Homo sapiens: one gene and its partner. The protein of the gene in region 1 purifies or fractionates together with the protein of each later gene. This does not show direct contact. Each region holds a gene or a part of one and is shown on either strand. Other genes may lie near its edges.

What was found. Proteins that work in one complex are often made in the same cells at the same time.
Region 2: the proteins of SNRPA (region 1) and SNRPE purify together in Homo sapiens (co-immunoprecipitation; 5 studies listed by BioGRID and IntAct, with this or other methods). This does not show direct contact.

What each region holds. Positions count from the first base shown.
Region 1 is NC_000019.10:40,749,517-40,753,262, forward strand, and holds the start of SNRPA (U1 small nuclear ribonucleoprotein A), read left to right. Parts: upstream 1-1,686; 5' UTR 1,687-1,892; coding exon 1,893-1,965; intron 1,966-3,746. Other genes in the region: ACTMAP (actin maturation protease), read right to left, coding at 1-287. UniProt on the Homo sapiens protein: Component of the spliceosomal U1 snRNP, which is essential for recognition of the pre-mRNA 5' splice-site and the subsequent assembly of the spliceosome. U1 snRNP is the first snRNP to interact with pre-mRNA.
Region 2 is NC_000001.11:203,859,466-203,863,211, forward strand, and holds the start of SNRPE (small nuclear ribonucleoprotein E), read left to right. Parts: upstream 1-2,133; 5' UTR 2,134-2,194; coding exon 2,195-2,248; exon of another isoform or gene 2,249-2,262; coding exon of another isoform or gene 2,263-2,278; intron 2,279-2,381; exon of another isoform or gene 2,382-2,448; coding exon of another isoform or gene 2,449-2,490; intron 2,491-2,716; coding exon of another isoform or gene 2,717-2,730; coding exon 2,731-2,757; intron 2,758-3,746. UniProt on the Homo sapiens protein: Plays a role in pre-mRNA splicing as a core component of the spliceosomal U1, U2, U4 and U5 small nuclear ribonucleoproteins (snRNPs), the building blocks of the spliceosome.

The DNA of each region.
Region 1 (3,746 bases):
TCTCTGCCCTTGGGGACCGGGCCGGCCTTATCAAAGGCCTCCTTCAGGAGCTGGCTCTTCTCCAGGCCGAAGACATGACGGGGAGCAGGCCCTGTGGCAGCGGGTGGAGGAGGCAGTGGGAGCGGTGGGGGAACAGGGGTCTGCTGACTCCAGGGAGGGGATGGTAAAGCTGAAAAGTCCAGGGGACTTGGGGGTAGAGGAGGAGATGGAATGCTGCTGGCTTGGGGTACAGGGGTTTTTGGAGGAGAAATTGGTGGTTTTAGGGGAGGAGAGCATGGAGAAGTCATTTTGGGGTCTACAGGAGGTGTTGAGAGGTTCAGAAAGCGGGGAGGGAAGGATCCTCCAACGGAGAACGGTCTCAGGGATGGAGATTTTAAAGGTTTAAGAGCTGAGTTCCAGAATCTGGGGACTGAGCAGTGGGTGTGAAAGGACCAGGGCTAATATTTGAAACCACGGGAGCAGGAATTGCGAGGCTGACTCAAGTCATAAGGCACCTGACGGTTAACAGGGTGGGGTCCTTAAATCCGGAACCGGATCTGTGGTACCGGTTGGGTTACCTCGGGAGTCTTAGGTGGAGAGTTAGTAGGAGTTAACTCATTCTTTGGGGCTGGATGTGGAAACTCATGAGTGAGTTTGGGATATGAAGGCTCAGATCTAGAGTGAGGTGCCTTAAGGATGCGACTTAGGGACCCAGGGCTAAAGATTCGGAGAACTTAGGTTCAGTACCCCCTCACATCCCAGGCCCGAGTTCGGAACCTTTGAGCTGACCTTTGAGTCAGAGGTCAAGAGGTCAAAAAGGACACCTGGCAGGGAAAATGGCCTAGTTGTGGAGAAGGTCCTGGAACCAGAGCAACAAAAAACGTCTGTGGGTTGGAGAAGACTCAGAGATCAGAGGCCGGTGGGCGCCGCGATAACCACTGGAAAAAGGAAAGGAGTCAGGAAGTAAAGTGCACCTCCCACTCCCGGAAAATGGCGGCCCCCGCACACTGCCTTTCCCATATCACGTGGTATTACACGCAACAGTTCCCGCCCATTTTGCGATCACGTGACAGAAAACGCAGCTCTGGCGGGGGTAAGAGGCGGGACTCCAAAAAGGATTGCCTCCGGAAGACACCGCAGCGCGAGACGCGTACAGACTCGTGACCTTCACTGATTGGTCCGTAGACCCGGGCGCCACGGAAGGAGGTGGGCTTTCAGGGAGTGGGGCGGGGTTTTTCTACCTAGGCGGGAACCCAAATATCGTTTTGATTGGCAACAGCTGAGCCCAGAAACGAGACTTGCTCTGATTGGTCAAGCTACTGCGTTTCCGCGCGGCGATTGGCTGGCAGAAAGGCAGAGGCGGGGCCAGGAGAGAAAGCTTTGTGGTTTGGTCTCAGGGAAGTAGCAGGCGCCGGTTGAGAGAACTACGGCCCTGTCGGAAGGTAACCTCCGGTGCAAACGACCATCGGCGGCAGGCGAGCGGTACGCTTGGCGTCCGGGCCTTCCTGGGCCCGTCTGAGGAAACTTGCTGCTCGAGGCCAGGCTGCCTAGGACCTGTCCCTTTTTTCTATACTGGCTCCCACATCCGGGTTTTTTCTCCGGGACGGCCCTTCGGATGCTTGGGCCAATGGGAATCGCCATTTAGGGTGCTCCGCCCACCGGGTCGCGTAGAGCATCCTGGAAGTCGTAGTAAATCTCTCGAGAGTTCTCTCCGCACGCGGGCTGGAGAAGCGGGTCCTACGCACGCTTTGTTGTCGCGCTTTGCCTCCGTCCTTGCCCCTACTCCCGCCTTACCTGACTTCCTTTTCGGAGGAAGATCCTTGAGCAGCCGACGTTGGGACAAAGGATTTGGAGAAACCCAGGGCTAAAGTCACGTTTTTCCTCCTTTAAGACTTACCTCAACACTTCACTCCATGGCAGTTCCCGAGACCCGCCCTAACCACACTATTTATATCAACAACCTCAATGAGAAGATCAAGAAGGATGGTGAGTTCTCGGGATAGTCCGGAGTCCAGACTGTCCCGCACGGGCTGGCCCCTCTTCCGTCCCCTGCACCCGCCTCTCTTTCTAAGTGTTTGTCCAGCCAAACTTCGAGTTAACTCCTTGGCCTTTACACAAACTACTTCCTGTCTTCAACACTCCATTAGTTCATCTTACACTCTGCCCTTTAACGTGGTCACTGCTGCTCATCTTACAAGGTTTGAGGTCACAGGACCCTTCCTCCAGGAAGCCTTGCCTTGTCCCTTCACGTGGCTGCCGCTGACTTGCCGTACGCTGAGACCATCTCCCATCAAGCCCTGATTCCTCTGAGCTGTCGTGGGGCTCTCTCTCCTCCCAGTGGCCTTTGAACTCCGTGAGGGCAAGGACTGGGGCTTTCTTGGTCACCGGCTTTTTCAGTGATCAGCCCACAATGAACATGTACCATAATGGTGGCTAACGCTCTGTATCATGGGCTGGTCTGTGTGCTTTCATATAAATCTTGATAACATTTAATTCTCACAACAATCTTGTAGGAAGAAGGCTATTGTTATTCCCATTCGTCAACTAAGAAACTGGGGCCGGGCGCGGTGGCTCACCCCTGTAATCAATCCCAGCACTTTGGGAGGCCGAGGCGGGCGGATCACCTGAGGTCGGGAGTTCGAGACCAGCCTGACCGACATGGAGAAACCCTTTCTCTACTGAAAATACAAAATTAGCCGGGCATGGTGGCGCATGCCTATAATCCCAGCTACTCGGGAGGCTGAGGCAGGAGAATTGCTTGAACCCAGGAGACGGAGGTTGCAGTGAGCCGAGATTGCGCCATTGAACTACAGCCTGGGCAACAAGAGCGAAACTCCGTCTCAAAAAAAAAAGAAAGAAAAGAAAAAGAAACTGAGACAGGGGTGATGTGACTTGCCCAGGGTCACATAGCAAGTAAAGTGGTTGAGGCCACCCGTATAGAATTCTGCTTAGGAACCCAATTTTTGGCCGGGCGTGGTGGTTCAGGCCTGTAAGCCCAACACTTTGGGAGGCTGAGGCAGGAGGATCACTGAAACACAGGAGTTCAAGATCAGCCTAGGCGACAAAGCCAGACCTTTTCTCTACAAAAAAAAAAAAAAAAAAAAAAAAGGCTGGGCGTGGGTGGGGTGCGTCTGTGGTCCCAGCTACTTGGGAGGCTGAAGTGGGAGGATCGCTTGAGCTAGAGAGGTTGAGGCTGCAGTGAGCTATGATTGCACCACTGCACTGCTGCCTGGGCTGAGCAAGAACCTATCTGAAAAAAGGAAAAAAAAAAAGAACTCAATTATTGAAATCGGAAAGACTCTCTCACATTCTCAAGTAAATTATCACCTTTATTGAACCTCATTTTCCAGATCTAAAAACTGAGCAAAATCATAATACCTTTTTTGCATGGATGTTGGGGGAGATTAAATTAGCTAAACCTTGCAGTATTTCTTTTTTATGGTAACTGGCAGCTAGTAAAGGGCTGGATAAATGTTAGCTCTTATCACTTCAAGAAAATTATCGGGAGAACCGAAGGAGCTTGTTGGGATTCAGTTTGAGGTTACCAGTGAAGTTGCTGTTGAAGAAAGCAAAACCAGCAGCCGGGCACTGGCTCACGCCTGTAATCTCAGCACTTTGGGAGGCTGAGGTGGGCAGATCATTTGAGGTCAGGAGTTCAAGACCAGTCTGGCCAAGATGGTGAAACCCCGTCTCTACTGAAAATACAAAAATCAGCTGGATGTGGCGGTGCGCACCTACAGTCCCAGCTACTCGGGAGGCTGAGCAGG
Region 2 (3,746 bases), on another chromosome or scaffold:
GTTGCTCAGGCTGGTCTTGAACTCCTGGGTTCGAGCAAGCCTCCTGCTTCTGCTTCTCAAAATGCTGGGATTACAGGCATGAGCTCGCGCACCTGGCTGAAATTTTTTTTTTTTTTTCTTTGAGACAGAGTCTTGCTCTGTCACCCAGGCTGGAGTGCAGTGGCGCGATCTCGGCTCACTGCAACCTCTGCCTCCCAGATTCAAGCAATTCTCCTGCCTCAGCCTCCTGAGTAGATGGGACTACAGGCGCCTACCACTACGCCCAGCTAATTTTTGTATTTTTAATAGAGACGGGGTTTCACCATATTGGCCAGGCTGGTCTCAAACTCCTGACCTTGTGATCTGCCTGCCTCAGCCTCCCAAAGTGCTGGGATTTACAGGCATGAGCCACTGTGCCCAGCCCTGGCTGAAATTTTTTAAAGGAAATAGTTATCCCATGCATTTGCCAGCTTTGTGTAGTTTATTTATTTATTTATTCTTATTTATTTTTTTGAGACGGAGTCTCGCTCCGTCACCAAGGCTGGAGTGCAGTGGCATGATCTCGGCTCACTGCAACCTCTGCCTCCTGGGTTCAAGTGATTCTCCTGTCTCAGTCTCCCAAGTAGCTGGGATTACAGGCATGTGCTACCATGCATGGCTAATTTTTGTATTTTTAGTAGAGACAAGGTTTCACCATGTTGCCCAGGCTGGTCTCGAACTCCTGACCTCAGTTGATCCACCTGCCTCGGCCTCCCAAAATGCTGGGATTACAGGCGTGAGCCTGGCCGCTTTGTGTAGTTTAAAAATCACTTTCAACTCAACCCCTTTCTGAAGTCGTTATTACTATTATCCCCATTAAACAGAAGCCCTCAGAAAAGCTAATTTTGATTCTGCCATTTGCCCTAATCCGTGTTCCCTTAGGCAAGTCCTTTCAAAAGTCTAAACTTCAGTTTCCTCCTCTATAACATGTGTATGCCAATTAAGTGAAATCTCTGCCAGGCCACAAGCCATGACACAATGGAAAGGTAGGTGGACTTTGGGGTCAGGCACACCTACAAATTCCAGCTGCTCCACTTAGTAGCTGTGTTATCCAGGGAAGGACATGTTCTGACACTGGCTGACGCCTAACTGTGTGCACACATAGACAATTATTTCATTGAATCTTTAAGCCCCTGAGTAAAGTTAATCTTTACTATAATCTCCGTTTTGGAAACTAAGCCAAGACATGGCGAGGCTGAGTAATTTATCCTTGGTCACCAACTCTAAAAGAGCTGGATTTGCGCCCAGCATGTGGATTTCAGCGTCTTCCTGGTAAATCGCCACCCTCAGTTGCCACCTGAACAGTAACTCTCCACGAAATGGATGAGAATTGAATCCGTAACTGGAGGGAACCAGGCGTCTGGCTTTGGAATGCAGACCGCCTCTGGCCGACTGCCAGAGGTGGGAGGCCTGAAGTTTGGGCTCCTTGCCGCCCTACCCTTTCCACCACAACGCTGCTATCAAGCCTAAACTCCAGCAAAATAGGCTTTAGGAAAGGCACGAAATTAACTCATTTTACACATAGAGATACACACTGGGACGATTTTGGCTTTTCAAGCTAACTCAGAAAATGGAGATACAGGCCGGGCGCGGTGGCTTACGCCTGTAATCCCAGCACTTTGGGAGGCCGAGGCGGGCGGATCATGAGGTCAGGAGATCGAGACCATCCTGGCCAACATGGTGAAACCCCGTCTCTACTAAAAACACAAAAAATTAGTCGGACGTGGTGGCAGGCGCCTGTAGTCCCAGCTACTCGGGAGGCTGAGGCAGGAGAATCGCTTGAACCCTGGAGGCTGAGGTTGCAGTGAGCTGAAATCGCGCCACTGCACTCCAGCCTGGGCGACAGAGCGAGACTTCGCCTCAAAAAAAAAAAAAGAAAAGAAATTGGAGACAGGACGGCACTCCTCCTACCACGGCCACTATACAACCGAAGGCACCTCCTCCCGCCTCCCTCCAGGTGGCGCTGTAGGACCGGCCCACCTTCCACAGCGCAGACGCCTCAGTTTGGCCTCCCTCGGAGGCCATGCAGCGAAGAAACGTGACTTCATGGCTAGAGGGGCATTTCCCAGGAGCCGCCCATGCCGCCGCGTGACCTTCACACTTCCGCTTCCGGTTCTTTATTCCGGAAGTTGCTCTCAGAGGCAGCGTGCGGGTGTGCTCTTTGTGAAATTCCACCATGGCGTACCGTGGCCAGGGTCAGAAAGTGCAGAAGGTTATGGTGCAGCCCATCGTATCCTACGCAGGATGTCAGGACTAGGAGGTTCGGGTCAGAATACGGGGTGCGAAGGCGCAGGCTGAGGGCAGGCCTGGGATAGTGGAGTACGGATCCACATCCCATGAGCCCCCGGGGCTACCAAGACTGGAAGAAAGCGCGGGTAGTTGAACCGTGATGGTGGGGAGGTGGTCTTGGGGGGACCCCTGCCGTGGGGAATGCAGGAATGGACGCGGCAAAAGGAGGGAAGAGAACTTCAGGTGCGGAGTGAAAACGGGAGTTAACGGTTTTGGGAAACTCCAGGGGGATGAAAGTGGAATGGATGTTCTTTAGTCTTTAGAAGACCCGTAACGAATGCCCAGCTGGGCACTTGTTGTTTGCGTAAGCACCAGACCTCGCGTTTAGTAAACAAAGGTGAGACGGGAATAGCGTCGTCCGGTTGTTTCAGGAAGCAGAGTCTATGCTGCTTTTGTATTTTTTCCTTAGCCACTGTGGTGCAGAACCTCATCTTCAGATACTTACAAAATGTACGTAAGTTGCTTGTTTCGTAACTACTTTTTAAATAAGAGGTGAACTGATTTAGTTTTTTGTGTTAACCTGAGCGATCGCTGTGTTCTAGAATTTAAAAATAGATGTAACTGGAGATTGGAGGGTAATTGAGGGGAAGGAGTACTTAGAAAGCACTAATGTGATGAAGTGGTGTGTATCCATGCCACTTCCCAACATGCAAAGAATTGTATCCATTACTTTGCAAGATCAAAAATACTTTTTAATTCCAAAAAGTATTATTAGCAGACTTGACCATGGTATTTGGGCATCAGTAGTTTTGTTAGTAGTGATTATGGCTAGAACATTGGAACCTCTCCCCTTTAGGATGAAACATTGGAAGAAAAACCCAGCCAACTTAAACCATGTCAAGAGGTGGTGTGTTTAATACCTGTGGGAAAACTTAAAGACGAAAAAAGGAAGAGAGAAGGGGTAGCTTCAGAGGAGTTTAGTGGCAGCTGCTTTCCTTTGAGGGAAATTTTAGCAACTTAAATTTTATAGTGTGATAACACAACTGAAAAACATTAATTTCAGGTGATAATAATTCTTAACCACCTGAATTGAGGGCTCCTGTCCTAGTTGTTAGGTGTGTGACATGAGAAGGCTTTGTTTTGGAACTGGATTTTGCTGCAGGAGATAAGCCCTTGGTCATTAGAAATTACTGCTTTGTGCTATGCTGTCAAAAACTTTCACTCTTAATAGATTGAGACCAGAAGCAGTAAGAAATATTGAGTCCCAAAATCACAGGAAAATTATTAGCTTATACAGTTCCAATATAGAACTTATTAAATGAAAATTCTTTTTGAGGTTATTATTATTGGTGAATAATTCTTAGATATGGGCTAATTAGTTAAAACTTTTGACTTACATTCATTACAATTTTTTTAGGAGCCATATTTCTCTTGTCGTTTGACCAAAATGGTTAGGTTTTGTATACTTCAATTTTTTGGGGGGCGGGGGGCGGGGAGAT